3 linked regions of the Homo sapiens genome follow. The protein of the gene in region 2 interacts with the protein of the main gene of each other region in a biochemical or structural test. Each region holds a gene or a part of one and is shown on either strand. Other genes may lie near its edges.

The links.
Region 1: of the proteins of MYL12B (region 2) and DAPK3, one has a biochemical effect on the other in vitro, tested with the Homo sapiens proteins (one study listed by IntAct).
Region 3: of the proteins of MYL12B (region 2) and DAPK1, one has a biochemical effect on the other in vitro, tested with the Homo sapiens proteins (one study listed by BioGRID).

Annotation. Positions count from the first base shown.
Region 1 is NC_000019.10:3,965,895-3,977,112, reverse strand, and holds the start of DAPK3 (death-associated protein kinase 3), read left to right. Parts: upstream 1-6,013; 5' UTR 6,014-6,192; intron 6,193-7,283; 5' UTR 7,284-7,377; coding exon 7,378-7,439; intron 7,440-11,218. Other genes in the region: EEF2 (elongation factor 2), read left to right, coding at 366-559. UniProt on the Homo sapiens protein: Serine/threonine kinase which is involved in the regulation of apoptosis, autophagy, transcription, translation and actin cytoskeleton reorganization. Involved in the regulation of smooth muscle contraction.
Region 2 is NC_000018.10:3,270,657-3,281,065, reverse strand, and holds the end of MYL12B (myosin regulatory light chain 12B), read right to left. Parts: intron 8,183-10,409; 5' UTR 8,168-8,182; coding exon 7,984-8,167; intron 3,814-7,983; coding exon 3,652-3,813; intron 3,302-3,651; coding exon 3,129-3,301; 3' UTR 2,605-3,128; downstream 1-2,604. UniProt on the Homo sapiens protein: Myosin regulatory subunit that plays an important role in regulation of both smooth muscle and nonmuscle cell contractile activity via its phosphorylation. Phosphorylation triggers actin polymerization in vascular smooth muscle.
Region 3 is NC_000009.12:87,499,590-87,510,169, reverse strand, and holds part of DAPK1 (death-associated protein kinase 1), read right to left. Parts: intron 1-10,580. UniProt on the Homo sapiens protein: Calcium/calmodulin-dependent serine/threonine kinase involved in multiple cellular signaling pathways that trigger cell survival, apoptosis, and autophagy.

The sequences.
Region 1 (11,218 bases), on a different chromosome or scaffold from region 2:
AGCAGGTGATGGATGGAGCAGGTGGTCCAGTTTCTGACAGCTTGTGGACCCCCTAAATCACTGAATTCCCAGGGGAGGGGCTCTCCTATCCCCAGTGTGAGAAGGGCTCTGGGCCTGGAGCTCTGAAGGCCTACGCCCTGGGCCGGTAGAGCAGCCGAGCTGTAGCACAGGGTTGTCCCAAACGAGCAGCGGCATGAGGCCCATGAGTGGCCTGCTAGGCCCTTCGTGAAGTGCTGGGCACCAGGCCGAGTGTCTGGTCTGCAGGGTGACTCAGGCTGAGGAACTAGCCTGAGCTCCTGACAGGACTTTCCTTCTGCCCTGCCACCTTCTCGATGGCCCAGTGAGCCTCTCGCTTCCCTCTGCAGGCTTCACCGCTGACCTGAGGTCCAACACGGGCGGCCAGGCGTTCCCCCAGTGTGTGTTTGACCACTGGCAGATCCTGCCCGGAGACCCCTTCGACAACAGCAGCCGCCCCAGCCAGGTGGTGGCGGAGACCCGCAAGCGCAAGGGCCTGAAAGAAGGCATCCCTGCCCTGGACAACTTCCTGGACAAATTGTAGGCGGCCCTTCCTGCAGCGCCTGCCGCCCCGGGGACTCGCAGCACCCACAGCACCACGTCCTCGAATTCTCAGACGACACCTGGAGACTGTCCCGACACAGCGACGCTCCCCTGAGAGGTTTCTGGGGCCCGCTGCGTGCCATCACTCAACCATAACACTTGATGCCGTTTCTTTCAATATTTATTTCCAGAGTCCGGAGGCAGCAGACACGCCCTCTTAGTAGGGACTTAATGGGCCGGTCGGGGAGGGGGAGGCGGGATGGGACACCCAACACTTTTTCCATTTCTTCAGAGGGAAACTCAGATGTCCAAACTAATTTTAACAAACGCATTAAGAGGTTTATTTGGGTACATGGCCCGCAGTGGCTTTTGCCCCAGAAAGGGGAAAGGAACACGCGGGTAGATGATTTCTAGCAGGCAGGAAGTCCTGTGCGGTGTCACCATGAGCACCTCCAGCTGTACTAGTGCCATTGGAATAATAAATTTGATAAGGTGGTGACTCTGTTCTGCATTTTTCACGGTGTCTTCGCAGGGGAGCGGGGCTGCCCAGTACTGGGCTCCCTGGAGCCTAGAAGGGGACCCGGGCCCTAGTTAGGTGCAGCCTGGGGCTGCCTCAGTGTTAGGTGGAACGTTCTGGAATGGTGGGAATGCCCTACCCCTGTGTCATTCAGAGAAGCAGCTGCCAGCTGCGCGGGTCTGCTGAGCATTTGAAGTAGGATCAGTGCGGCAAGGAATTACGAGATGTCACTTTGAACGCATTTGGATGGCCCTGTGGAGCGAGGGGCTCTGGATTGAACTTCGCAGGTTTCAGCAACTTTCCGAATTGCTGACGAGCTCACAAGTTCTATCTGCCATCAGGATTTTCTGTGGTCACCCCAGTCCTGACTAGTTTATTAGAAACCCATTTTTTTTTTTTTTTTTTTTGAGATGGAGTCTCACCGTTTGCTAGGCTGGAGTGGAATGGCACCATCTCTGCTCACTGCAACCTCCACCTCCCGGGTTCAAGCAATTCTGCCTCGGGCTCCTGGGTAGCTGGGATTACATGCGTGTGCTACCACGCCCAGCCAATTTTTATATTTTTAGTAGAGATGAGGTTTCACCATGTTGGCCTGGATGATCTTGATCACTCGACCTTGTGATCCACCCGCCTTGGCCTCCCAAAGCGTTGGGATTGTACCACTGTGCCCGGCCTTGTAAACACTTTTTTAGAGGCAGAGTCTTGCTGTCTCCCAGATGAGTATAGTGGTGCAGTCAGCTCACTGCATCCTCCACCTCCTGGACTCTCCTGCCTCAGCCTGCCAGGTAGCTGGGACTCCAGGCATGTGCCACCATGCCCAGCTAATTTTTATTTATTTTGAGACAGAATTTTGCTTGGCCTGGTTGGTCTCGAACTCCTGACCTCAAGTGATCTGCCCGCCTCGGCCTCCCAAAGTGCTGGGAATTATAGGCGTGAGCCACTGTGCTGACCTAATTTTTACTTTTTTTGTAGTAATGGGGTCTCACTATGTTGCTCAGGCTGGTCTCCTTCCCGGGCTCAAGCGATCCTTCTGCCTCAGCCTCCCAAAGTGCTGGGATTTCAGGTGTGAGCGCCAATAGCTTAGAAAACTATTTGTTTTTCTAAATAGTGCCTAAGATGTGAGGAGGCCTAATCTTGTCAGTGCTGATAAGGTTAACATGATCATTTTCCGCCTTTTACTCTGTCCTCAGGAAGGCAGGTGGGGACTGTGAAGTAGGGCTGTGGGGTTCTCGGCAAAGGCGGGGGCAGCTCTGGCCCTGCATTGTCAAGGCCAAGCCTCAGCTGAGGTTTTGCCCACATGTAGGTATGCCTGAGGTTTGGTTTGGCTGTCGCATTTGAATTGGGGCTGTAACTGACGCTGTTTCCAGCAGTCAGGGTAACGGATTACTGTGTTTCGAGAATCTCACTCTATCGCCCAGGATGGAGTGCAGTGTTGTGATCTTGGCTCACTATAGCCTCTGCCTCCGGATTCAAGTGCTCAAGCAATTCTTGTGCTTCAGCCTCCCGAGTAGCTGGAATTACAGGCGCCTATCACCAGGTCTGTGTAATTTTTGTATATTTAGGTGAGATGGGGTTTCACCATGTTGGCCAGGCTGGTCTCAAGCTCGACCGTAAGAGATCAGCCCGCCTCAGCCTCCCAAAGTGCTGGGGTTACAGGTGTGAGCCACCATACCGGGTCCTATTCTTTTTTAGTAGTGCAAACGTTAAGATGGTATGTGGAAGCTGAATTTTTTTTTTTTTTTGAGACAGTCTTTGCTCTGTCACCCAGGCTGGAGTGCAGTGGCTCAATCTTGGCTCACTGCAAGCTCCGCCTCCCGGGTTCACGCCATTCTCCTGCCTCAGCCTCCCGAGTAGCCGGGACTACAGGCGCCCGCCACCATGCCCGGCTAATTTTTTGTATTTATTAGTAGAGACAGGGTTTCACCGTGTTAGCCAGGATAGTCTCGATCTCCTGACCTCGTGATCCACCCGCCTCGGCCTCCCAAAGTGCTGGGAATTATAGGCGTGAGCCACTGTGCTGACCTAATTTTTACTTTTTTTGTAGTAATGGGGTCTCACTATGTTGCTCAGGCTGGTCTCCTTCCCGGGCTCAAGCGATCCTTCTGCCTCAGCCTCCCAAAGTGCTGGGATTTCAGGTGTGAGCGCCAATAGCTTAGAAAACTATTTGTTTTTCTAAATAGTGCCTAAGATGTGAGGAGGCCTAATCTTGTCAGTGCTGATAAGGTTAACATGATCATTTTCCGCCTTTTACTCTGTCCTCAGGAAGGCAGGTGGGGACTGTGAAGTAGGGCTGTGGGGTTCTCGGCAAAGGCGGGGGCAGCTCTGGCCCTGCATTGTCAAGGCCAAGCCTCAGCTGAGGTTTTGCCCACATGTAGGTATGCCTGAGGTTTGGTTTGGCTGTCGCATTTGAATTGGGGCTGTAACTGACGCTGTTTCCAGCAGTCAGGGTAACGGATTACTGTGTTTCGAGAATCTCACTCTATCGCCCAGGATGGAGTGCAGTGTTGTGATCTTGGCTCACTATAGCCTCTGCCTCCGGATTCAAGTGCTCAAGCAATTCTTGTGCTTCAGCCTCCCGAGTAGCTGGAATTACAGGCGCCTATCACCAGGTCTGTGTAATTTTTGTATATTTAGGTGAGATGGGGTTTCACCATGTTGGCCAGGCTGGTCTCAAGCTCGACCGTAAGAGATCAGCCCGCCTCAGCCTCCCAAAGTGCTGGGGTTACAGGTGTGAGCCACCATACCGGGTCCTATTCTTTTTTAGTAGTGCAAACGTTAAGATGGTATGTGGAAGCTGAATTTTTTTTTTTTTTTGAGACAGTCTTTGCTCTGTCACCCAGGCTGGAGTGCAGTGGCTCAATCTTGGCTCACTGCAAGCTCCGCCTCCCGGGTTCACGCCATTCTCCTGCCTCAGCCTCCCGAGTAGCCGGGACTACAGGCACCCGCCACCATGCCCGGCTAATTTTTTGTATTTATTAGTAGAGACAGGGTTTCACCGTGTTAGCCAGGATGGTCTTGATGTCCTGACTTCGTGATCTGCCCACCGTGGCCTCCCAAAATGCTGGAATTACAGGCGTTAGCCACCATGCCCTGCCACTTTTTTTTCTTTGAGATGGAGTCTCCCTCCGTCACCCAGGCTGTAGTATAGTGGCATGATCTCGGCTCGCTGCAACCTCCACCTCCTGGGTTCAAGCAATTCTCCTGCGCTAGCCTCCCGAGTAGCTGGGATTACAGGCATGTGCCACCAGGCCTGGCTAACTTTTGTATTTTTAGTAGAGACAGGGTTTCACCATGTTGAGCAGGCTGGTCTTGAACTCCTACTTCAAGTGACCTGCCCGCCTTGGCTGCCCAAGCTGTTGGGATTACGGGCGTGAGCCACCACACCTGGCCAACCCATTGTACGTTGAAAATGTAAATAAAAAATATAAAGGCCGGCTTGTGGCTCACGTCTGTAATCGCAGCACTTTGAGAGGCCGAGGCCGGCGGATCACAGATATTGAGACCATCCTGGCCAACATGGTGAAACCCTGCGTCTACTAAAAATACAAAAATCAGCTGGGAGTGGTGGCGTGCACCTGTAGTCCCAGCTACTCGGGAGGCTGAGGCAGGAGAATCGCTTGAACCCAGGAGGCAGAGATTGCAGTGAGCCCAGATCTCACCACTGCGTTCCAGCCTGGACGATAGAAGGAGACTGTCTCAAAAAAAAAAAAAAAAAAAAAAAAAGGCTGGGCAAGGTGGCTCATGCCTGTAATTCCTGCACTTTGGGAGGCCGAGGCGGGCGGATCAGGAGGTCAGGAGATCGAGACCATCCTGGCTAACACGGTGAAACCCTGTCTCTACTAATAAATACAAAAAATTAGCTGGGCGTGGTGACGGGCGCCTGTAGTCCCAGCTATTCGGGAGGCTGAGGCAGGAGAATGGCGTGAACCTGGGAGGTGGAGCTTGCAGTGAGCCGAGATTGTGCCAGTGTACTCCAGCCTGGGTGACAGAGCGAGACTCCGTCTCAAAATAATAATAAAAAATGAATTTAGGCCGGGCGCAATGGCTCACGCCTGTAATCTCAGCACTTTGGAAAGCTGAGGTGCCGGATCACCTGAGCTTAGGAGTTCGAGACCAGCCTGGGCAACATGGTGAAACCCCGTCTCTACTAAAAATACAAAAATTAGCCGGGCGTGGTGATGGGCACCTGTAATCCCAGCTACTTGGGAGGCTGAGGCACGAGAATCGTTTGAACCCGGGAGGTGGAGGTTGCAGTGAGCTGGATACCGCCGCTGCACTCCTGCCTGGGTGACAGAGTGAGACCCTGTCTCAAAAAATAAAATTAAAAAAAAAACAAACCTGATACCTCCCAGTGTTGTCAGTTGGCACATACTATGTCTCAATAAAATGCTTGCTGTTACCCTCTATTTTGAGACGAAGAGGGACCCTGTGTATGACAACCCCAGATTGACCTCATTTGCATTTTAAGTATTTAGAATGTGGGTAACAGTTTTCAGTGGAGGAAACTGCCACATAGGGACTAAAGCAGTCCCAGGGTCCACTCCAGGAGCTGCCAGGCGCGCTCGGCCACAGGTGAGCCATCCATTCGCCCAACCGGTGCTCCAGGAAGGCAGGAAGCGGGATGCAGGGCTTCAGCCTCACTTCTCGCAGCTTCAGCACCTGGGTCAGAGGAGAGGCGGGCGGGGCGATGAAGGGACCGGAAGTCGGCCTTTTTTCCGTCCGCTTGACCAGCGTCGACTGCAGCCAATGAAATCAGGGATGGCGAGTGTTCAGCCAGTGGTGAGGCTGCATCCGGGTGTGGGTGCCGAAAAGGCAGCTGGGGGCGGGACGTCGAGGTGCGGCACGAGCGGCGGGCGCACCGGCCAATAGGCGGCGGGGTTCGTTTCCCGGGGGTGGGCACTGGCGGGTGCGGTGACGTCGGCGCAGGCGCGTCGCGGCGGCAGGGGCGCGGGGCTTCTGGAGGCGGCGGCGGTGGCCAGCGCGGCGGCGCCGGCCGTATTCTCCGGGCTGCGGAGGGTAAAGAGCGGGCTCGGGCCGAGGCTGGAGGGCTGGGTGGGGCCAGAGCGGCGCTTCGGGGGCCCGCGGAGGACGAGGGAGGGAGAGAATCTGAGGAGCTGGTAGGTTTGGGGACCCATCTGGGTGACCGGGCCGGGGAAAGGGCTCGGCCGGGCGTGCGAGGGGCGTAGCGGCCCCAGGGATGCTGGAGCGGAGCCTTAGGGATGGGCAAGGCCTTGGGGGCGGGGGGAGGTTCTGCAAAGGGAGCCACTGGGGTCTGCCTAGGGGCTTGTGCGGAGATTGCGGGCGAGAAGGGGCAGAGGACGGTGGAGGAGACTCAGATGGGGCCCTTTTTGGCGGCCCGTTTTGGGGGGTAGGGGAGACGGCGGTTGGGGGACTTTGATACATGGAGCGTGGAGGAAGAGGTTAATCTTGCGAGGACAGTGGAGGTCAGCGGGGGAGGGAGGCAAAGTGGGCTTTCAGGAGCGTGGAAGGCGTCGTCCGGTTCTTGGAAAATTCAGAATTGGAGGGAGTCAGAGATGGTTGGGGGTGGGCGGGGGTGTTCCATCGATGAGGGTCTTAAGAGACCTGCCGAGGGCAAGGACCAGGAGGGGTTAAGGTAGTAACTTGGGAATTTTGATCGGAATGGCAGCACTTTGGGAGGCCTGGGACGATCGCTTGAGCCTTGGAGTTCCAGGCTGCAGTGAGCCATGATTGCACCACTGCACTCCAGCCAGGGCGACAGAGCGAGACTCCTTCTCAAAAAACAACAACACCAACAACAAAAGAAGTAGACTTGAGAACTTCGTTAAGACATTGGCCAGGGAGTAAGGTAGCCCTGGGATTTGAGGTTGAGGAGAACGTGCAGGAATGGTGGGGGATTTTGGCTGAGCAGGTTGAGAGAAGTCTAGGAGTGAGAGGCAAAAAAAGACGCAGGCAGCGTCGGGGAAATCAGAATTATGTGTCTGGAGAGAGTTTTGCGGGGTGAAGGTGGCCCAGTGGGGCTGTTACCAAACTTTTGAGTGGTTATGGGGCTCTAAGAGGTGACATGACAGGACCCAGCCCAGTAAACACAGCACCTCTTTTTGTCGAGTTTGGAGCTTCAGAGTGGAGAGGTGGGAGGCTTGTGTTTGCTGGACAGGTCTGTCCATTAATCTAGGAGAAAAGGGTGGTGTCTCAGTTCCTCACTTCTGTCTTTCCCTGTCTTCTCCAGGGTTGCCATTAGGGGACTCCTGAGGTCCTATCTCCAGGCTGCGGTGACTGCACTTTCCCTGGAGTGGAAGCTGCTGGAAGGCGGACCGGCCGCCATGTCCACGTTCAGGCAGGAGGACGTGGAGGACCATTATGAGATGGGGGAGGAGCTGGGCAGGTGAGCTGTCTGCCCGCACGGCTGGGCTCCAGGGATAGGAGAGAGGCGCTGTGGGGTTTTCTGAACAGCAGCTCTCCTTTCCTGTTCTTTATCCTGTATGCTGAGAAGGAATGAGTCAGTATCATGCGGTGGGGGAACGAATTTGGGCCGTGGAGTCAGACAGCCCCGGCTGTGAATTCCTGCTTGGGAATCCTCTGTGTGTTTCCTGTGGGGAGAAAAGTAATTGAGCCGTTACAGCAGCCAAGACCGTGCCTGGCATGGGGCACCAGAGCAACAGATGCCAGCTGCTTTTGTTATTAAAAGATGTGTCTTCTGCCTGGGCAACATAGCAAGACTCCATCCCTACAAAAAATAAAAATGAAAAAAAATTAACCAGGTGTGGTAGCTCATGCCTGTAGTCCCAGCTACTAGGGAAGCTGAGACGGGAGGATGGCTTGAGCCCAGGAGTTGGAGGAGGCTGCAGTGAGCTATGATCGTGCCACTGCACTGTAGCCTGGGCAACAGAGTGAAACCCCATTTATTTAAAAAAAAAAAAATCTCCCTGTGTTAATCCTCTTTTGTGGGAGGCACTTTAGTTTTTTTGCCCAGCTCTTGGATGTTTAAAGTGGGGGGAGGGAGGGGCGTGTCTCCCAGCTGGGCCCAAACCTCGGTCAATTGTTTAACATGCTTGTGGGAAAAAGCAGAGGTTTCCTCTTCCAGGGAGGCAGCTGATTTCCTGCCTGTCTGGGCCTTGGAGGGTCCCCCTGGGGCCCCACCCCCTCCAGACTAGCCAGGCACCACTAGGCCCTGCCTCCTTTTGTAGAGCCTCCAGCCTTATTTGGTGAGTTTGCTACTGGCCAGCCTCCCTGGAGCCTCCCCATGATGTCACCAGAAGGGAATGTAAATAAGTGAGCTCTGTGTCAGGCTAGGGAGAGTGCTGCAGGCTCTTTTGGGATCCTGAGGTCCCTCCTTCAGGAATTTCCTCGTTAGTGGCAGAGAAAGCATGCTCCCTCCTCCCCCTTCTCATGCTTCAGTGTTGACCCCTCCTGCTAGGGGTCGTTTGGCAAAAGTCAGCAAAATTCAGCCAAATTTCTTTTAACTCGCCGATTTCACCTCTAGGAATTAATTCATTGGAAAACTGTACATACATGGATGGAATGACTTAAGACTGGGGTAGTTGCTAGAACGTTTACCAGAATAACAGCCTTTTTTTTTTTTCCTTGACACTATCTCATTCTGTCGCCCAGGCTGGAGTGCAGTGATGCGATCTCGACTCATTGCAGCCTCGGCCTCCAGCCTAGCCTCCCGAGTAGCTGGGATTACAGGAGCCCGCCACCACCCCTGGCTAATTTTTGTATTTTTAGTAGAGACAGGATTTCACCATGTTGGCCAGGCTGGTCTCGAACTACTGACCTCAGGTGATTCACCTGCCTCGGCCTCCCAAAGTGCTGGGATCACAGGCGTGAGCCACCGCACCCCGCTGGGAACAGCAGCCTCTTAAATGGCCTTCCCCAAACCACTGCATCAGGGCTGGAATAGGATGCAGCTTGTAAAAAGAACCAGGCAGGGCCAGGTGCGGCGGCTTCCGCCTGTAATTCTAGCGCTTTGGGAGGCCAAGGCGGGAGGATCGCTTGAGCCCAGGACTTCAAGACTAGCCTGGGCAACATAAGTTGACCCCCATCTCTCAAACAAACAGAAATTCATAATTTTAAAAAAAGTATTTAGCCTTCTGTTTTTGCCGTGAAGCCTTGGAGGTCTGGTGTGTATTTCATGTCGCAGTTTTTCTCGGGACTGGCCACACCTCACGGGTTTGACAGCTCTGGGTGGCCAGTGTCTGCTGTTCTGACGGCACTGCTTCAGGTAGTGGTCTGGAACATTCTCAGAGATACATGAAGTGCAAGATGAAGGCCCAGAATGTAGCAATTTTTGTTTGTTTGTTTGAGACGGTGTCTGGCTCTGTTGCCGAGACTGGAGTGCAGTGGTGCCATCTTGGCTCACTGCAATCTTCGCCTCCCGGGTTCAAGTGATTCTCCTGCTTCAGCCTTCCAAGTAGCTGGAATTACAGGCGCCCACCAACGTGCTCAGCTAATTTTTGTATTTTTAGTAGAGACGGGGTTTTGCCATGTTGGCCAGGCTGGTCTTGAACTCCTGACCTCAAATGATCTGCCCGCCTCTGCCTCCCAAAGTGCTGGGATTACAGGTGTGAGCCACTGTGCCTGGCCCCAGCCCACACTTTTTTTTTGAGACGGAGTCTTGCAGTGTCGCCCGGGCTGGAGTGCAATGCCGCAATCTCAGCTCACTGCAACCTCCGTCTCCCAGGTTCAAGCGATTCTCCTTGCCTCAGCCTCCCGAGTAGCTGGGATTATAGATGCCTGCCAGCACGCCCGGCTAATGTTTTTGTATTTTTAGTAGAGACGTGGCTTTCACTATGTTGGTCAGGCTAGTCTTGAACTCCTGACATCGTGATCTGCACGCTTTTGCCTCCCAAAGTGCTGGGATTACAGGCGTGAGCCACTGTGCCCGGCTTCCCAGCCCGCATTTTTAAACATCATGAACTCTATCAGTAGAAATTGTCGGTGTGTAGGCCACGCTTGGGTCGTGTCTGGGTTGTGGCAGGCACTTAGGAAGTGGGTTGGGAGTGACACCTGAGACCATCACTGAGGAGGGCTTGCTGTGCCCCCACCTGCGCTGGGGGCTGGGGAAGTTACAGAGAAGCGAAGAGGGTGGGCTCAGCTCTTGGGGAGTTTCTTTCCCGGCTGGGGAGATGAGGCACGTTTCACATTCCGTAGAGGAACTGAGAGCCTGCCAGTGGCCTTGCCTCTAAGGAGCAAGTCTGTGGCCAGTGAGACCGGGGGCTGTCTGGAGGTGGGCGGCTGTGGTCTGCTGTTGCTGTAGGAGGACTCAGTGGCAGAACCTGAAATCTGGTTGGCAATAGCAAAACAGGGAAAGGCGTGGTTTACAGAACCAGGTTGTCCAGGTGTGCAGCGGCCGCAGGTGTGACTGGGTGCTGGTGCATATGGTGCCCTGTGTCCCCGGGGCCGAAGTCCACTCCAGCATGGAGGAGGCGCCCTGGCAGAGTGAATGACGGGGCTTATGTGCCACCCGCAGTGCCTGGTGGCTCCCCTCTCCTGGCCTGGTCTGTTCTTAGGCAGGCTTCTTAGGTAGCCTTCTACGTGGTGGCCCCTGCCGCGAGCCTGGATCCAAGCCCAGCAGAGGGAGAGAGAGATCCTCTCTTCCCAGCAGGCGTTCAGAGCCCTGTGGACTGGACCGGTCTCTTTGGGCTGGAAGGCGTGGTTTTCTGCTTGCCCAGGTCCAGTCGTGTCCCCTTCCACCCCTTTCCTGGGCCACTGAGTCCCACAGACTGAGAGTGAGCGGCAAAGGCTGCCCTGGGACAGCTGGGTCTGTTAGCAGGAGACAGCGTGGAGCCGGGAGGTAGGCACGCAGGAACCCGGTACCCAGCAGCAGCTGTCTGCTTCCTGTTAGAGCACCTGGGCTCTGGAGCCTGCAGCACCTGGTTTGAAGGTTTGAATCCTCCCGCCACTGACTGACTGCATGACCTTGGGCTAGTTGCTTTCCTTTTCTCAGCCTTGGTTTCTTTAAAATGCGGATACTGGCCAGATGTAGCGGCTCCACCTGTACTGCCAACACTTGGGGTGGGGGAGTGGGAGGATCTCTTGAGGCCAGGAGTTCCAAAGCAGCCTGGGCAATACGGCAAGACCCTGTCTCTACAAAAAATAAATAAATCAGGTGTGGTAGTGTGTTCCTGTAGTCCCACCTACTTGGGAGGGATCACTTGAGCC
Region 2 (10,409 bases):
TGGGATGACAATTCCTACTTTATCCACTTCCTAGCGTTCTGAGGATCAAGCACAATTCACAAACGCTTGTAAAACTGGCTCATGACCATAAGAAACTATCGACGGTGTTTCCATAATCACTTTCTTGGGAGGAGCACAACTGCCTGCGCTCAGGTGACTGCCCCACTGCTTATTCCCTGTGTAACTTTGGGAAGTTACTTCCTTGCCCCCTGACATTTCATTTGTAGAACAGGGATAACAATACCTACCTCAGGCCGGCCGCGGTGGCTCATGCCTGTAATCCCAGCACTTTGGGAGGCTGAGGCGGGCGGATCACTTGAGGCCAGGAGTTTGAGTCCAGCTTGGCCAACATAGTGAAACCCCATCTCTACTAAAAATACGAAAATTAGCCAGGTGTGGTGGTGCACACCTGTAATTCCAACTACTTGGGAGGCCGAGGCACGAGAATCGCTTGATTGAACCTGCAAGTGGAGGTTGCAGTGAGCCAAGACTGTGCCACTGTACTTCAGCCTGAGTGACTCTGTCTCAAAAAAAAAAAACAAAAAAAACCCAAAAAGACCTACCTCAAAGGGCAGTTGTGTAACGTGCTTCGTACATAGTGAATACTCAGTGCATTTTCACTATGTGACCACACACACACACTCACTGCAGTGGCCACAGAATCAACCATCAACTTAGGAGATTGTCACTATGTGGTTCTCAAAAGGAGATATTAAGTAGACAAAGTTTTCATCGTCATCATTAATAATATTTACTGGACACCAAAAAGAAACAAAGTCTTGGCCCAGGTGTCTTCCACTACTGGATTCCACAACACTCTTCACAAATAATACAGATGAAACAGAACAGTGTGTCAGGTAAACGTAAGGCAGTCGAGAAACAACTAAGTTTTTTTGTTTTTAATCTTCAAAACTTTTCTCTCAATTTTTCAAATCTGGCTTTAAGCAGATCAATAAAATAAGCACAGTTACGATTATGCCAGAGATGGAAACAAGGCTGAGCTGGAGGGGAGGAAACAGATAGGACCCGGAGAGGCGTTTTATAGCTATCTCCCCTGGACCTGAGTCCATGCTGCCCCCTCTTGCCTGGACGACGGCAACAGCCTCCATACCGGCCTTCTTGCTTCTCTTCGTGCCCCTCCATTCAAGACACAGCACCAACACTGATTTTAAAAATATAAATCACCTTTCTTCCCTGCATTTCACATTAGGACTCTGCTCCAAATACCCTCCCTGGACCCGTATCATCCATGTGCTCTCCCGATGCTCCTACCACACGACAGCCTCGCCCTGATCCTCACATGGGTCCGGACCTCCTTCCTGTCATTCAGATCTCAGCTTACCACCCAGAGGCCTTTCCTGACCACCCTGTCATGCATGCCCAGTTCTCTGCACAGCACTTAACCTGAAATTGCACATGGATTGTCTGCCAGCAGAGAATGCAGTCCCACGAGGGCAGCATCCTTGTCTGTCCCACCCCCCAGTTATCCCCAACCCTTACAACAGTGTAGGGTACATAACAGGTGGTTGACAATGGTTCAATAATCATCAAGATTATCCCACCGTATTTTTCTGTTTCCTGTGAAACACACAATTCTCCACCTGGTTTTGTGACACATTGTGGTGAGTTTAAGCTTCTAAGTGGAAAAAAGAGCCAGATGTAGATTCTTATATTTGTTAGATCTTGGGCAGGAGCTTCAGTCTAAACTTCAGGTCTATTAATAAAAAGTAGAACTGATACCTCAGAGACTAAGAGGATTGGGTGATAAATGTGACAGTTCATATGAGCTGCTCCCTCATTCTAATGATAAAAGGAAGCCCAGGCAAATTGTTAGCAAGTGAATACAGACCAGCCTACTGCCCCAAGTTGTAAAGCACCAATATTAAACAACATATAAATGCTTTGGTGTTAAGCAGACAAAATACCATCACAATACTTTTAAGAGGGGAAATCGGTATTGAACAACGTTGGGTAATTTTTTAAAACGGATTTTTTCCTTTTTTAGATTGTTCTCTTTATTCTCGTATTGCTTGGCCTTGAGGATTCTGAGCTCACAGCAACCTTGTCTTTCGGCTCTTTTCTAGTCTATATATTACATGAAGTGCCTTCAAACACACAATAGTATTGTTTATTTTAACCTGGAATAGAATTTTCTGAAATTCTGTTCCAATCATCAATTACCCCAAGATTATTTTAAATTTCAATAATGACCACAGAATTGTATCATAATAGAACAGAAATGTCTTGACTCTTTTAGACATTTGGGGCTTTTCAGAGACAGTATCGTGGTTCCAGCACTGTGAGCTCTGAAGTTAGGTGCCCTAGGTTGGAATTCCAACTCATGTCCTAATAGTTACCCTAATCAACTGCTCAAGTATGCTAGGTCCTCCCACTTGAAATACAGGGCTAATAAAAATCCCACAAGGTTGTTGGGAAGATTCAAGAAAAATTGTGTAGGCACAACGCTCCACATATAGTAAATGTACAATAACTAATCTTCGGAATTTTGCCTCTTCTCAGAATCTTAGATGAACGCAATGTTTAATGTTTTCCCAGATACATTCTATATTTATCATTTAATAAACATCTGACTAGAAGCGTGAAAAACAATGGCATAACTAGTTTTTACTGCATAATAATGTTAAAGGGTACTTAAAAGTTCTGAAGAACACTGTCCCATATATGTGAAAAATCAATTTTACCATAAAACCTGAATCATATGAAGTTGAAAACCTGAAAAAAGGACTACCCCCACCTATCAATCATTTGTTTAACTTGCCATTACATTGCATTTGAGTCAGCATAATCTTTATTTCAAAATAACATTTTTATTATATAAAAATGTAAAAATCCAGCAAAACCAGAAATACGAATATATTTTTCTGGGCTTTCACATTTGTTGATTTTTATTCGCGATCTTTTTCAATACAATTTACACCCTCATCCCCATTTCCAGTCTGATTATACAAGTGCTAAGTGGCAGAAAGGTCTGGAATAAATACATCAAAAAGAAGAGGCAAAGCTGTGAAACTAAGTTGCATGCAACAGGTTCTATGAGGGTGGGGGAAGTGTCTGAGAAGTAAAAGAGAGTAAGACAATGTAACTGGAAGATTTTAGCTAAAGTTCTTTCAGTCATCTTTGTCTTTGGCTCCATGTTTCAGGATGCGTGTGAACTCGATGTAATTGAAATTCCCCTTTTTGTCAATAGGTGCTTCTCTGTACAGCTCATCCACTTCCTCATCTGTAAACCGATCCCCCATGGTTGTCAGCAGCTCTCTTAGGTAATCTTCCTGAATGGTGCCTGGAAGACAATAGAAAGAAGAAAGCAGTCATCAATACTTCCTGGCACTTTGATGGTTCATTCCTAAAGCTTGTCAATCGTATAAAATATTTCAGAATATCCATATCTATAAACAAAGTAAGTTAGTGAACTAAGGCTATATGAACTATATCATTATGTTTTCCAATTATTCTTAGAGTTCTGTGTTAATATTAGATCAAATCATTTAAAAGCTCAGAAACAGATCATATGCTTACAAAATTATTCTTAAGCAAATATTTTCTAAAGGTAAAAAAAGAAAACCCCTTCTATTTCACAGAAGTACTTTATATAGTGTGGAATGAGGCTGGGCATAAACAAATAGCACTCACCTGTTGCTTCTTCATCAAAGCAAGCAAAGGCGTTTCTGATGACATCTTCAGGATCTGTGCCATTTAACTTCTCACCAAACATGGTCAGGAACATGGTGAAATTGATGGGCCCTGGGGCCTCATTCATCATGGCATCAAGGTATGCATCAGTGGGATTCTTCCCTGTAAGAATACACATTTTAACATTTAAAGACAAAAACATTTAATTTCAATAGTTATTTCACTATTATTATGCTCCCCAACATATTTTTAAAATGTACATCATTTGAAACTAATTTTTCAATTAACTTTAAGAACATTTTAAAAAGATTATTTTTGACAACTTAAAAAATATTGGATACATCATTATAAAAATGTATTCCAGGCTTATATTGAAGGTTATTTATTCGTTTATGTGAACTTTCTGTTCATTATTTTTCATTAAAAACAAAACAAAAACCTGAAGCCAGGCAGTGCCACATTATTACATCTTAATTTTTTTTTTTTTTTTTTTTTGGACTATAGGCATGTGCCACCATGCCCTGCTAATTTTTTGTTTTTTGTAAAGACTGGGTTTCACTATGTTGCCCAGGCTGGTCTTGAACTCCTGAGCTCAAGTGATCCACCTGCCTTGGCCTCCCAAAGTGATGGGATTGCAGGCGTGCATCACCGCGCCCGGCCTACATCCTGAATGTTGATAACATCAATGGTCCATCGGGGAGTCAGTTCAATACCAGTCATACAAAAAAATCTAAATATTCACACTTCCAGTTGTGGTACAGATGCCCATAAGTTGATATGCTTCAAAGTTGTATTTATAAGTTGGCCATTTAAGTTTAAACTATTAGCATGGTTTTGAATTGGCAGCTTATTTTGAACAATGTTAGATATCTTCAAACACTGTTTACACATGTCATTGAACTGTGGTCTTCTTTGGTATTGTTTGTAATGGGAAATCTTAATCTCCATTCCAAGTGTGAACACTTCTTTTAGTGCAGTGGTGAGGGAACTCCCCTGACCTTTCCCTAGGAGCTGAAAGAAATCTCCCTGGAATGGCCAGACATGGTGGGAGTGTTTTTGAGGCCCCGTGGTGTGGGAAAAGCAGCACTGAACCAAGGATCTGGAATACTGGGTTTGAATCCCAGTTCTACCACTGGTTGTGTGATATAGGAGGAAGTGGCAGAACTGGCATTCAAACCCAGTATTCCAGATCCTTCGTTCAGTGCTGCCTTATGTAGAATTTACTTCTTTTTTTAAAAAAGTCTAACATTGACTGGTTAAAGTTGGTATCTCAAAGGTATCTTCCAACATTAAGTTTATATGATTTTACATGAAAAGAACATCTATTAGTCAGATATTCATATCTAAGGAACCATCTCAAAATTATACCCAACTAAGTCAAAGCTAGAATGACAATCAAAGCTACCATTATAGTTCATATGTAAGTTTTAATTCTGGGAATTTGGGTGAAATGTAAACATCATGTTGGCATCTATTTCACTGCATTGCAGTCCTACCTGATTACACTTACTCAATGTTCCAATATCAAAATTAGCCCAAAATTAAACTCAAGATTCACTGAATAAGTTAAAGTAGCTAAAAAGATCTACTTTTCTACCTCCAGATTTAACCCAACTCACTTGCAGCATTTTTTGGGGGGAAGAAAAACTGTAACCAAAAGGTGTGAAGAGAACGCTAGGGTACAAAAAGTTACAGGGATTTAAAATGAATTGGTTTAGGCTAAGCACTTATGGACCCGCTCAAGACATCCAATGTAATCTGTTGATTTGAAAGGTAAATACGTATCTTTTAAAAATTCATATTTATTTAAATTGCTTTGGGTACACAAGAGGTGTATATATTTATGGGGTACATGAGATACTTTGATACAGGCATATAATGCAAAATAATCACATCAAGGTAAATGGCATAGCCATCCCTTCAAGCATTTATCATTTCTTTGTGTTACCAACATTCCAACTATACTGAGTTATTTTAAAATGTACAACAAATTACTGCTGACTGCAGTCACCTTGTTATTCTATCCAATACTAGATCTTATTCATTCTATCTATACTTTTGTATCTATTAACAGTTCCCACTCTTCTCCCTGCCCTTCCCAGTCTCTGATAACCATCCTTCTACTTTCCATCTCCATGAGTTCAATTATTTTAACTTTTAGCTCCCACAAGTGTGTGAGAACATGTGAAGTTTGTCTTTCTGTGCCTGGCTTATTTCACTTAACATAATGTCTTCCATTCCATCCATGTTGCTGCAATGACAGGATCTCATTTTTTATGGTCGAACAGTATTCCATTGTACATAAGTACCACATTTTTAAAATCCGTTCATCTGGTGACGGACACTTACGGTGTTTTCAAATCATGGCTGCTGTGAATAGTGCTGGAATAAACATGGGAGTGCAGATACCTCTTCAATGATACTACTGATTTCCTTTTTTGGGGGTATATACCTAGCAGTGGGATTGCTGGATCATATGGGAGAGCTCCTATTTTTAGTTCTCTGAGGAACCTCCATAATGTCCTTCACAGTGGCTGTACTTATTTACATTCCTACCAATAATGTATGAAGGTTCCCCTAAAAGGTAAATACATATGTTAAAGCAAACTAAATATGGCCTGAGAAAGACTCCGTACTTCTACAGTTGAGTCCTTGTGAATGAATTATAACCTAGCTTAATAGTCAGACAAGACTGAAAACCTAACTTAGGAGTATGAGCCTGTAACAACTGCTAAGCCTTGGCCAATCTCAGCAGCCATACTTCAACCATTCATACACTGCTGAGTGTTCAAACCATGTTCAAATAAGGCATATGCCGAGCTGTAATCAATCAAGCCATTCCATACCTCACTTCCAATTCCTGTACGTCATTTCCCTTTTTTTGTCTATAAATCTTCTTCTACCACGTGGCTGCACTGGAGTCTCTGTGAATCTGCTGTGATTCTGGGGTTACCTGATTCGCAAATTGTTCATTGCTCAATTAAACTCCATTAAATTTAATTAGGCTGAAATTGTTCTTTTAACACGTATCTTTAAAAGGATGGGTTTCTGCAAAACAGAAGGTCTCAAAGACAACCTCTGACTCTACCATGACTTGTTCGTTCAACAAATATCTATTGAGCATCTATTATAAGCAGAGTATAGACTTGAGAGTTCAATCTTTGGAAGATGGCTACATTCCTCAATTTTCCTCAGAGGCCTTCTTCAGTACTGACTTGCCCAAGAACATACTCAGACATTCTGAATGTGAGAAACACTAGGTTATAATCTAACTACAAGTCAACAAATCAGATAAAAATCTTTGATTCTACTCTCACCCTAGATAAAGAAAAGTTACAAAATGTTAACAATCAGTGAATATAGCTAAAGATGTATAGGTGTTCACTATAATGTTCTTTCCACTTTTTGTAGGCTTAAAAGTTTTCAAAATCATATGTTGGATAGGAATAAGTACACACCTAAACTTTACTTTCAATGTGTTAGGAGAAATAATCAAAATCAAAAGTTAGAAGAATAAAAGCTAGCTGATCATTTTGTAGGCATTAAAAGAGAGAAAAAAAAAACCCCCACCTCTTTCTTTGCCTTTTTGGCCAGTCAGCCAAGCAGGAGGACAGAGCGCAAAGTCTCACTGTAGGCCATCCCTGACCCACTCCCAGCCTGCCTCACCCCCTCCGCTTTGGCCTATCAAGGTCTCCTTTGCCTGCAGTTCCTTGACTCCCAACTGTAAATTAACTGCTGACTCTGGCCAGAACATGTAGGATGCATGTTAAGAAACAATAACAAAATCATACAAGGAATATTAACACCCATATACCAACATACAAATGGCTGTTTATGTGTGCTTTAAATCCTGTATCTTTACATTTTAGTTATTAAAAAAATCATACAAAATATTGTGAAAGTCTTCTTCACTGTGTTCCCTTTTCCAGTCGCACTGCCCCTCCTTCCCAGAGATAACCATCATCACTTACTGTCACTCCTTGTTTATAACCTGTACTCAACCTTTATTAAGTATATTATTTAGCTACACTTGTTTGAAACTCTGGTATTTTGCTGCCTAGCCATGCCCTGGCTTTCCATCTAGAGACCTAAAAAATTTAGCTAACAGGAACATTAGCCTACCCGGGCACAGCATCTGCCAGGTCCCCAACCTTGTAGGCTTATCTCCATATGACTGGCCAAGCCCCAAAATAGCACCTCCCACACCCAGAAATCTCTCCAGAGGCCTTTTGAGACAAGGAGAGAAATATTTGTACATCGCACAAAAAAAAGATTCATAAAGAGACAAATTATTATTTTAGGGAAAATACAAATAAAGAATATAAAGTCTACCTAGAGAAGCAAGCATATCATGCAAATCTTCCTTGTCGATGAAGCCATCTCTGTTCTGATCAATCATGTTGAAGGCCTCTTTGAACTCCTGAATCTGTGACTGGTCAAACATGGCAAACACATTGGATGTTGCACGCTGAGGGCGCTTCTTGGTGGTCTTGGTCTTTGCCTTTTTGCTCGACATGGTGGTTGTTTAATTCTGGATTAAAAAAAAAACACAAAAACGTAAAACAAAACAATGTATAAAACAAAGCAAAAACAGAATACATAATACCTAAAGTCTGTAGGTAAAAATATCAATAAGGAATTATTACTTCAATTGGGTAGGAATAAGTATGCACCTAAACTTTATTTTCAATGTGACAATTAAATGACTGAGTGGAAAAAAAGCAGTTTTGAAACATTAAGGAACAGAATTTGCCAGACACCAGTGGCTCATGCCTATAATCCCAACACTTTGGGAGGCCAAGGTGGGAGGCTCACTTGAGACTAGGAGTTCGAGACTTGCCTGGGCAACATAGTGAGACTCCCATCTCTAAAAAAGAAAGAAACACAATAGAAATTATTGATGTACCTTGTCCTAAACTTCAGGGGATCAATTTTTATGAAGTGAGAATTTAAAATATCTAACAATAGCTAGCATCTATGGAGTACTTACTCTGGCCAAGCACTGTTATGAAGGCATAGGGCTTCCTCAAAGAGAAAGTCTCCAAAGTTGATTTCTTACTCTGACAAAGACTGTCCCCATTTAATCCTCACAACAGTTGCCTATGGTAGGTACTCTTATTCCCATTTTACTACCAGTATAACATAACCTCTCTGAGCCTCAATTTTTCATCAGTAAAACATGATATCTACTTCAATGCAAAGAACTAATTGAGATAACATATGTAAAAAGACTAGTCATGTTCAAAAAAGGTCTCATCTTTATAAATATCAAACCCACCCTTTCATCTTTCTAGCTATCCCTGCATTTCCCTTTTCCCTTGACAAGACTTTCAGAATACCAGTCTAATGCTGAACTGTCTTCATTTTTCCTTCTGTTTTTTATTTTAGAGATGGGGGGTTTCTCACTATATTGCCCAGTCTGATCTTGAACTCTGAGGCTCGAGATCCTCCCAAACTGCTGGGATTACAGACATGAGCCACCGTGCCCAGCCCCTTTTCTCTTCTTCCCAATCATTCCTCCATTCTCCGTAATATGGCTTTGGTAGTAGCTTCCAACACTCTACTGAAAGCCACCAATAATTTAAATGTCAAGCAGAAAAGGCACTTGTCATTTCATTTTTAATTTGCAGTTTTAAATAATAAATAAAACACAAAAATACCATCAGCTCTGGAGTTAGGAAGTCCTGAGTTCAAATCTCAGCTCCACCGTTACTAGCTACATATAACCTCTGAAAACCTATGTATCTGTGAGCCTAACAGCTTTCAGTGAGTTCTGTGAGTCTTAGCAAATAATCAAACGCAAGGGTGGTCTTAGGACATCCAAACTTGAAACTGCTGTCAGAAATGATGGTCTTGCAGACTGTTTCCGTAACTTCCTGCAATGTGAAAAACAAATGACTAGAGAGGTCAATGACTGAGCAAGGGGATTTTGGACCTAAGTCTCCAGGACTTCTGGTATTGGGATTTTTTATATAAATGTATTGTCTACTTCTATTTATTCAAGCTAAAGAACATCCCACAGGGTGTTTTGAAGCTTGGCTTAGTGGTGTTGTTTTGAAGTACACCAGCCTTACAGTCCTTACTCTAACATTCCAACTCCTTACCCTCCCCATATACAAGTCCTAAATAAATGTTAATTTTCTTCTCTTCCTTGTAACTTAGTTTGTTATTTGACCTTAGTTATATCGAAGGTTAAATCAGAGACAGAATGTAGTCTACTAACAAGGCATTTGATTATGTTTTCATTCTTCTTCACATACCAAAACTTAGATTAAGGTTCATTCTCATGCTAAAAATTTTGACTCAATTTCTTCAAGATTAGTCAAATACATCTGAAGGCAAAAATTATTAGTTCTCTCTCAGTATCAGCAAGTAATTTTTGTAATCGAGTTATTTAGAAAAAGTTCCAAAAGAGTTAAATATTTATTTTTAAAAACGAATCAGGCCGGGTGCGGTGGCTCACACCTATAATCTCAACACTTTGGGAGGCTGAGGCCAGAAGACTGCTTGAGCCCAGGAATTTGAGATAGGCCTGGGCAACAAAGTGATACTCTGTCCCTACAAAAAATTTAAAAAATTAGCCAGGTGTGGTGGCACATGCCTGTGGTCCCAGCTACTATTTGGGAGGCTGGGGTGGAAGGATCATTTGAGCCTGGGAGGTCGAGGCTGGTGAACCGTAATGGTGCCCCTAACCTCAGCCTGGGTGACAAAACGAGACACTGTCTCAAAAAATCAAATCAAATCAAATCAGAATCAGT
Region 3 (10,580 bases), on a different chromosome or scaffold from region 2:
CGAAGGGGTGGGGAGGAACGCACAGACTGACAACGTTTCATCCTGTAGATATTCCACTTGTGCTAATTCACTTCCTCTCCCAAACAATTGAAACGGATGCCTGAGGCTGTATGTAATGGAATATACGATGGAGCCTGGGGCACACCCTTATCGATTCTAAATGGGCGAACTGTAAATATATTCTGTTTAGTCCATCTATAGTGACTTAGTCAGAAAAAGGGCAAAAGCGGCCTGGCCGTGAGCTCACTGGTGCCACTGCCTCCATGAATGGCAAAGGAACGGAGCAAGTGAGAAAGAGGCCTCCTCCATGTGCTGTGGTGCAGAAGGAAAAGAAACCGCGATCATCTGACGCCAGAAGAGCTCCCAGGAATGAAATCTGTGAAAGATTCTGGCATCACTCCCAGCAGTTCACACACTGACTGTAGAGACTTTGAATGGCAAAGCCAATATCTAGGAAGACAATTTTCTATATTCCCATCCCAAGTGCACAGAAGAAAACGCTGGCAGGATGGCCGGGCGCGGTGGCTCACGCCTGTAATCCCAGCATTGTGGGGGGCCGAGGCGGGCGGATCACCTAAGGTCAGGAGTTCAAGACCAGCCTGACCAACATGGAGAAACCCCATCTCTACTAAAAATATAAAATTAGCGGGGCGTGGTGGTGCATGCCTGTAATCCCAGCTACTCGGGGGGCTGAGGCAGGAGAATCGCTTGAACCCGGAGGCAGAGGTTGTGGTGAGCTGAGATTGCGCCATTGCACTCCAGCCTGAGCAACAAGAGGAAAACTCCATTTCAAAAAAAAAGAAAAGAAAATGCTGGCAGGCTGTGCTTTCAATTATACTGATTTATAGGCCAATGAAATATTATTTTAAGGTAATAAATAACTTTTTAGCGCTTTTTGCCTTACCAAATTCCTAAGGACAGCTCTTCTGTGTATTATATACCATTCAGCATCTCCAACATGAGCAGCACCCATTAAAAGTCTGTTCTCTACAGGATACGTATACCTGCAGCGCCTGTAGCTTTGTTTTTATAAAGCCAAACAGCTTGTAATTCCTAGTCTATTAAATATTACACTCCAAAGGTTGCAGCCTTTCATCACTTTCCCAGAGACACACATTTCTGCTGCTTACCCATAAACCACAGATGGCCTCAAAAATTGAGCTTTACACAGAGGAGGCAAAACAATTTCGAAAAACTTCTCAAAGGAGGGTGGAAATATCGGAACTGAATCAACACTAAATTCTGACCTCTTCTCTCTGCCTGTCCCATGGTATCCTTCCGCCACTTTTTTTCTTGCATTGCTTTAGGTGTACCTATCCTCTCTGAGGCAGCCCAGTCCTGGATAGACATATGAGGTGCTAGGCAGACAGACAGGCAGCTCAAAGGAAAATCTAATCATTTTCATGAATGGGGAAAAAAAAGAATGGCATTGATGACTTTCTCTACATGTCTTTTTCACCTGGAAAATTCTATACTGTGGGTCAGGTGTCAGGGGTTGTAGTAAGGTCTCAAAAATCCTGACAATCGTGGCCGGGCACGGTGGCTCACGCCTGTAATCCCAGCACTTTGGGAGGCCGAGGTGGGCGGATCACGAGGTCAGGAGATAGAGACCATCCTGGCTAACACGGTGAAACCCTGACTCTACTAAAAATACCAAAAATTAGCCAGGTGTGGTGGCGGGCACCTGTAGTCCCAGCTACTCGGGAGGCTGAGGCAGGAGAATGGCGTGAACCCGGGAGGTGGAGGTTGCAGTGAGCCGAAATCGCGCCACTGCACTCCAGCCTGGGCGACAAAGCAAGACTCCGTTTAAAAAAAAAAAAAAATCCTGACAATCTTTCTAAGGTGAAAAGGAAAAGTTGGACCAGTGCGGCGACTCACACCTGTAATCCCAGTACTTTGGGAGACCGAGGAGGGCAGATCACCTGAGGTCAGGAGTTCCAGATCAGCCTGGCCATCATGGTGAAACCCCGTCTCTACTAAAAACACAAAAATTAGCCGGGCGTCGTGGCGGGTGCCTGTAGTCCCAGCTACTCAGGAGGCTGAGGCAGGAGAATCACTTGACTCAGGAGGCAGAGGTTGCAGCGAGCCAAGAGCATGCCACTGCACTCTAGTCTGGGTGACAGAGCGACACTCCGTCTCCAAAAAAAGGGAAAAGTTTATACAGTTTCAAAAGTAAAAGCAATGAACTAAGACATAACTATTCAACAATGAAAAGTAGTTCATTTTTGTAGGTGAAAATTTATAATATCAACTGCACTTAAAATATTTGCCAGCCAGCCTCATTCATCACATATTTCCTAAATAAGAATAATCAGGCAGTTTTGACAGAAAAATAAAATGTGTCCCAAAAGAAGTCCGTACCTCGAGCCAAATTTCCCAGCCAAAACCCATCAGGCTTATGAATATAAGTGCCATCAATATAAACTTTTCACACTTCAGAGATCGGCAGTTTACAAGCATTCATTTGCTCAAACATTATGTTCTTCGTCCAAAGTTGTATGTGTTTATAAAGGGAAAAAAAAAATCAACAACATTCTCCCAACCTCCTTCCCTCCCCTCCCCACCACTCTGGCATCTCTAATTATATGTTAGGTTACTGAATAAAATTTTTCAAGCTCACAACTGAAACATCGAAAGGTAGTACATAAGGTAAAAGCCCCGTGAACACCAGATGCGGTGGCTCATGCCTGTAATCCCAACACTTTGGGAGGCTGAGGCGAGCAGATCACCTGAGGTCAGGAGTTCAAGACCAGCCAGACTAACATGGAGAAATCCTCTAAAAATACAAAATTAGCCAGGCGTGGTGGTGCATGCCTGTAATCCCAGCTACTTGGGAGGCTGAGGCAGGAGAATCGCTTGAACCCAGGAGGCGGAGGTTGCAGTGAGCCGAGATAGCGCCATTGCATTCCAGCCAGGGCAACAAGAGCGAAATTCCGTCTCAAAAAAAAGGCCCCATGATCACTTCTCAGAAGTAAGCAACATTATACTTCAATGACCACAGTGTGATCCATATGCCACACCAGCTGTCAATGTCACCTAAAGACCAAAGTGACAAACCCGCGTCACTATTGGACCACGCTTGTCAGGTATCTCCAGAGATTAGTTACTATCACATGATTGTTTTGTTTTGTTTTGGATTGGGACAGAAGATAAAACACAACTATTTTAGGTTTTAGATTTTTTATTTGTAAAAACCCACCCAGCACATTAACTCTAGAGCTGGGATACAACTGTACTTACCTAAGAAAGATTTAATAGTTAGAGAAAGTTAGTTTAAATCCATTTTAGTTAGATGATGTGGAAAATCGGAGTGTCAACTTCTTTTTTCTTCCACCTTCTTCTAACTGCACCTTTAAAAAAATTCGTTTATAATAGAATGTACCCAAAGTCATACACTGAATTTATTATAATTGTACTGTCATATAACCTCTTTCAAGGCCGAGAAAGGATGCATTCCATTTGTATAATTTACCCCAACAAACCAGAACAAAACAATTAAATATTATCTTCCACATAAAGTCTCAAACAATCACACACCAACTCTAAGCTAGCCAGACTAGTTGTTGCGTAAGGAAATGAGAAACTGTTGGTCAGTGGCAGGTAGGTGCACGGGTCAGAGACAAGACTCTTAGACATTACATAACTCAAAAGTTAAATAACAATGAAAGTGTTTTTGGAGTTTTCTAAAAAGGTAAACCATTAACTTGGGACTTGAATAAAACTACGCCACATGTTGACATCATTCCAAACTGCAAGGCTGAAGCCATTTGGAAAAGGAAAGAAGGTCCCAGTGTGTCGTTAAGGCCTGCGAAAGTTCTGAGCTCAAAGGGCAGACCCTGTTGCCTTTGGCTGGGCTTCAAATGAAAACCTTCCATGAAGGGTCTACTATTTATCCCTAACCATTTTCTCCATGCAGATGCTGAAATAAATTGGCGCCAAATGGCTGCCTACTTCACCTCTCTTAAATATCAACTTCATCTGGCTTTCAAAGATGGAAAACTGCCAAATCCTAAATAGCACAGATAATGAAATAGGCCTGGCCCTGGGTTCTGGGTCCATGTCTTGCCACCTTTTAATCAGCTGCCTGGAGAAAGCCACTTGACCTGTCTAAACACAGGTGGATAAAATGTGAAGGGAGGCAATGCTGGTCACTCAGCCTTCTTCCAGGTCAAAGTCCCGGCCAGGCACAGCGAGAGGCTGACGCTTATAATCCCAGCACTTTGGGAGGCCGAGACGGGCGGATCACTTGAGGTCAGGAGTTCAAGACCAGCCTAGCCAACATGGCGAAACCCCACCTCTACTAAAAATAAAAAAATTAGCCAGGTATGGTGATGCATGCCTATAATTCCAGCTATTTGGAGGCTGAGACAGAGAATCACTTGAACTGGGGAGGCAGAGGTTGCAGTGAGCCAAGATCGCCCCACTGCACTCTAGCCTGGGCAACAGAGCAAGACTTCGTCTCCAAAAATGCAAAAGGCCAGGCACAGTGATTCATGCCTGTAATCCCAGCACTTCGGGAGGCCGAGGAGGGTGACTCACGAGGTCAGGAGTTCAAGACCAGCCTGGCCAAGATGGTGAAACCCCGTCTCTACTAAAAATACAAAAAATAAGCCAGGCACGGTGGCAGGCGCCTGTAATCCCAGCTACTTGGGAGGCTGAGGCAGGAGAATCACTTGAACCCAGAGGGCGGAGGTTGCAGTGAGCCGAGATCACGCCACTACACTCTAGCCTGGGCAACAGAGTGAGACTCCGTCTCAAAAAAACAAAACAAAATCAAACAAACAAAAAGACACAAACAAACAAAGTCCCTGAGCTCTCTGGGGTACTCTTCCCCAATGGAAACCACTCCCCTCTTGTCAGAAGAGTGGCTTCCTTTGTCTCATAATCAGAAATAAATTTCTACTAAAATAATATTCACTTAATTTATACAAAATGTTAGGTACTCATGGCAGTTGGCTAGAATGAAGGATGAAAGTTCCTAACACATTTCCCTGCTGAGTCAGGCAATGTGACCTTGACCATGCCACTCCCAGATATCAGATATCCAGCAGCTCAGCCCCTCACCCCTAATCATCTGGAAAGAAGTGGTCTGGATTACAACTCTGCTAGGAGGGAAGAGAACAAGGTGGAAGAGCCAATGTTGCCTCTCCTGATATAACACCTGTATACAACTACAGTCAGCCCTCTGGATCTGTGGGTTCTGCATCCATGGATTCAACCAACCTTGTACCAAAAATATTCAGGAAAAAACTGCATCTGTACTGAACATATACAGACTTTTTTTTCTGGTTATTATTCCCTAAACATTATAATGCTACTATTTAGTTAGCATTTACATTGTACTAAGTATTGTAAGTAATCTAGAGATGATTTAAGATATATGGGAAGATTACATCAGTTATATGCAAATACTATGCCATTTTATATAAGGGACTTCAGCATTTGTGGATTCTGGTGTCCCCAGAGGTCCTGGAACTAATCCGCCATGGATACCGAGGGATGAGTGCACTGGAATTTATCTGGACATCCATCTCTGTAGGTTTCTTATGAGTTTTTCATGGCTTTGCAGAGGCATATACCAATGATATGGGGCCTTCAGTTTCCTCATTGGCCGGGGAGACACAAGCTGAGGGTAAAAGAGCATGGGGGACCAAGAAGTGAGCTTCCATGTTCCCTGGCTTCCCGACCAATAAGCACCTCCACCTACTCTGTTCCTGGCCCCCTTGAACCTAAATTTGATGCCTGCCCTAGTAATCCAGCAACACACTCCCAGTGCCAGCAAGCAAGCATTCAACCAAACTGCCACTTACTAACACCATCATGCTTTCCCTTCACATCCTGGAAAATTATTATTAGACCTTCCTAAAATGTACACACTTTTAAAATCACTAACCGTTGCCTTTAATCTATGTAGCTGAACTTTATCTCTCTTAAAACTTTGGACCCTTTCCTATCAGAGGAAACATCTGAGAGCATTCTGAGTCAAAAATGCTAAGAGGAAAAATGTCACATTCAGCACAGTCCTATAAGGATGCAGAAACCCACCGGTGGCCTGCGGTTCCCATTTCTGAAGAAAAAACATGCCAGAAAGTCTCTCCCCTTCTATGAGCCACACAGGGTTGCCATTATTCATAGGACTGACTCCTGCAATCCACAGTAAACCGGTCTAGAGAAGCACTTGGACTGCCAGGGCTTATGACAATTTCTTACTTCAATTAAAATGCCTATGGATTTTATGCCGAAAGGGGAATGTTTTAAACTTGAATTATTAGCTTCCAATGACCATCCAAACCAATGTAAAATATTTAATGCTCCACTTCATTTGTTTTGTTTAAAACTGATCTTGTGCTTGAAAATTTTGGCTGCTGTGCTCATTACTGTTCAGCCACAAAGAATGCAAAAACAAGAGCAGTTTTTATTTTGATGAGCGGCAGCCATTATATCCTAAGTGTTCATCTTCACCACAAGCCATCATTTGTTGAGGCCCTAATACATACATATTCTTTCAAGTTGCTTTACATATATTGATCCACTCAGTCTAGTCTAACAGCATGCATTTACTGAGCGCCTTCTAAGTGCCATGCATCAACCTGGGCATTAGAAATAAAAAGTGAGGAGCAAGTCCAAGGTAATGGCCCCATGGAGAAAGCAGATCATCAAATAAGCAGTTACTATGCAATGTGGTAAATGCTGTGATGGAGAAAACAGGTTATTAAAAATAATAAAAATGATATATTAGAGGCCAGGCACAGTGTCTCTGCCCTATAATCTCAGAGCTTTGGAAGGCCAAGGTGGGAGGACTGCTTGAGCCCAGGAGTTCAAGGTTACAGTGAGCTATGACTGTGCCACTGCACTCCAGCCTGGGAAACAGAGTAAGACCCTGTCTCTAAAATATATATATATATACATATACACACACACATATATATAAAAAACATATACATATATATATATTTTAGACACATCACACTTAGTAGGTGTTCAGTAAATGCATATCTACCTGTAGACTAGAAAGACAGACTGCATGTCAGATGTTTAAAGCCACGTCTGTAATTCTAACAACACTCTACCAGGGTAGGTGTCTCCCCACTTTCCAAATGAGCATTCTCAGGTTTTTCCACACTGCACACTGCCTCTCTAACAGTATCAGCATCAGCATCATCGTTTGCATCTTACATCCCCATTCTGGTCTCAAAATTACACTTGCCAAACTGCATTAGCTCATTGAGGCATGCATTAATCCCAATATTGATCATAGATACCAATTTGCAGGAAGTCTATGAAACCCTGCACACCATGGGGAGAAAGGACCACAACAACTCCAAACCACAGGGCACACCCCAAAGAAACTCACAAGCTGGCTGCAAAGAGTAATACAAGACTAATAAACATGAAACAGGATAAACATGTCACTGGGCAGTCTATGGTCATGGACAAAGAGAGTCTCAGAGAAGTCACTTGACTTTAAAAGGGGAAACTCATTGTGGAAGGATTCATTAAGGAAGTAGGACTTAGGTCTTAAGATCATATAAGGTCAGATGGTGCAATAGGAAAGAAGGCCAGTCCCTCAGGAAAGCAGTGTACACAGAGAGGTGCCCAGGAGGCTCACAGGTTAGGCTGAACGACGGCCAAGGGTGTAACTAGAGCCCGACAATGGGGCAAGTCAGCCTGCAGCTGCCCGAGGTGCCAACTGATAAGAGATGCTAGGGCATCCTGGGGCATTAAAACACCTCGGTATAATAGCAGATTTATAAGAACTCCTCCCAGAGACTATTACACATCATGGAGGCAGTTCTTTGTTCCGCCTCCTGGGACAGAGGGTGAGACCCTAAAGGGCCTCCAGGAGCCAAAACTGAAGGCCACCAAGCACCCTTCTAAAGATAACAAGTGCATCTGCTGCAGGGACTTGCTTCTGCTTGGAGGGTGTGCCAGCTCAAGGCCAGGGCTGCATTATTCAGAATCATAGTGGAGGCTGAATGCTGTCAGCAACCCTTCTCCCCATGACCCTTTTCCTATAAGGCATCCCCTCCCAAAGCTGGTAAACAGAAACTTAAAGAATATTGACTTGCCGGCCAAGTTATTAGCTTGCCTGGGGCACCCAGATGTCTCAGCCAGTCTACAGATAATATCTATATTTGTTTAACTCTCTACTGCTGATCAACTACTTTTACAAGTTAGATTATTTTTACAACAGCAATGAAAAAAGCACTAAACCTCTCATAGAGGAAAATCCTGAGTGTCAGAGTGGGTAAATGGCCTGTTCAAGAAAACTGGCAAGTTGCAGAGCCAGGTTTTGGACCAGGGTATCTGTCCAGTGGCCCATCTGCTCTATTACTGCTGCAGATGGACTGCTGCAATAGTTGCAATACTCTATAAAGTTCCTGACCGTTGACAGAGAGCTTTTACAGAAGTCTTAGGCAGTACACACAAATACGAACATTTTCAATTTTCCTAAAAGTAAAATAACATTAACAATAATACTTGTACTCTACTTCTTCAAAAACCCATCTTTCCTCCTGGCTATGTACTTTGTCTCACTACATTTATAAGGTAAGTGAATCGTTATTATTTAGATGACTGCTAAAGATATATAAGTAAAGTCTTTTTTTTCTTTCTTTTTTTTTTGAGACAGAGTCTCGCTGTATCACCCAGGCTGGAGGGCAGTGGCGCGATCTCCATTCACTGCAACCTCCGCCTCCCAGGTTCAGGCGATTCTCATGCCTCAGCCTCCCAAATAGCTGGGACTACAGGCGCGCGCCACTGCGCCTGGCCAATTAAAGTCTTAAATCTTAGATAATTTTTTTTGTATTTTTAGTAGAGACAGGGTTTCACTATGTTAGCCAGGCTGGTCTTGAACTCCTGACCTCGTGATTTGCCTACCTCAGCCTCCCAAAAGTGCTGGGATTACAGGTGTGAGCCACCTCGCCTGGCCAAGTAAAGTCTTAAATCTTAGATACTGGTCTACTAGTAATTCACTGCTTAGAATGACCTTGCATTTGTGCCACATATCTGCCCATTTCCATTTTCCTGCCACCAAACTCCTGCCTCCACTCCCAATCTTCCCTCAGTGACACGTGATGTCATATAAGCAGCATCTTCCTACATGTCCATTTTACATTAGGACTTGTTTTCAGGAAGTGGCTACATCCAAGGCAGACATAAAATCAGGACTTGAAAAATTTTCCAAAAAACAATCATTCACTCATTTTTTGGCAAAAACAATAGCAGTTATACAAGATAGATGAGTCTGTACATTTCATTTTTAAAAACTTCAGACTTCCAGTTTTTCAGAGCATTTCTTTAAAATTCCTAGGTCACACAAATTATTTAATAAACAATTTGTCAATTTGCCTTGCACAGTGGGGAGAACGTTATACACAAAAATGTACACTGAGCAAATCAAAGTGCTAGTGACAAATAAGTAAGCCACCTCCCTCCCCTCATCATCACGCCCACGAAATAAAGATCAAAAACTCCCTTCGCCAACCACAGGGAGGCCTCTTTTTCTATTTCTTTCTCATAACACATAATGGTACCAAAAAATCATAATGAAAATAAGGTCAATATACTTAATCCATAATATAATAATCTCAACTAATTTTAGTCATCTCTCTTTCTAACAACACTTAAACGATCAGGCCACACTATGCAAATCAAATTAAAATTTATTTTTTTGCTTTTTTCTTCCAGTCCCAAAGGAAAACTCCAAATACCACTCATCTTGCTGAAAACCACAGTAAAGTTATTTAATTCCAGTTAAACCAAATATTTCACCCACACACTCTTAAACTTTAATCTTAAACATATCCATGAAATGTGATGTTTGAAGAGCTTTCCTTATTTACTCACCAGATCATCAATATACAGAGAGCTCTTCCTAAGCACAGGCCCCCATCTATGTTTTCAGTCGATACTAAATATTTAGAGAAATACTCTGTTACAGTAACTTTTAAAAAAATTCTACACTATCATTTGAATTTTTAAAAAAATTTAGTTAAGCTTAGTTTCCATAATTCTCATTAGGCAATCCAGGATGTGGGTGTTTTTTAATTTCCTTTTCATGGAGAAAAAGGAAGCTTTGTATCAGGACATCAGATGTATATGGGAAAATACATATTTCAATGCACATATAAGTAAATACATATTTTGTTTGTTTAAAGATCCTTTTGCCTACTCCACTCACAATGTAAATACACCACAGTCAAATTCCATAAATTCAGTTTTAAATGTATGTATGAAAACTAGGTTTTCTACTAAAGTTGACCAGAGCCCAAAACACTCTGTCTAATACACAGTCAAAGGAAACAGCAATCAGCCCTTAGATGCCCCGAAAGAAACTATTCTTTGTTTACCTAGAAACTGAAAGATTTTACACTGAGAATCACAGCTGCTACAGCAATGGAGGTATGCTCTGAATCCAGATAGCCATATTAGACTCTCATTGATTTGTTAAAAATTTAACATTGTAAATGAAACCAAAGCAACCACCAACACCAACCAGGTAATTAAATTCCTGGTTGGAAGAAGTTTCAAAATCCAAGCCCAATGTCAACATCTGGCAAGTCTCCATTTACCACCTA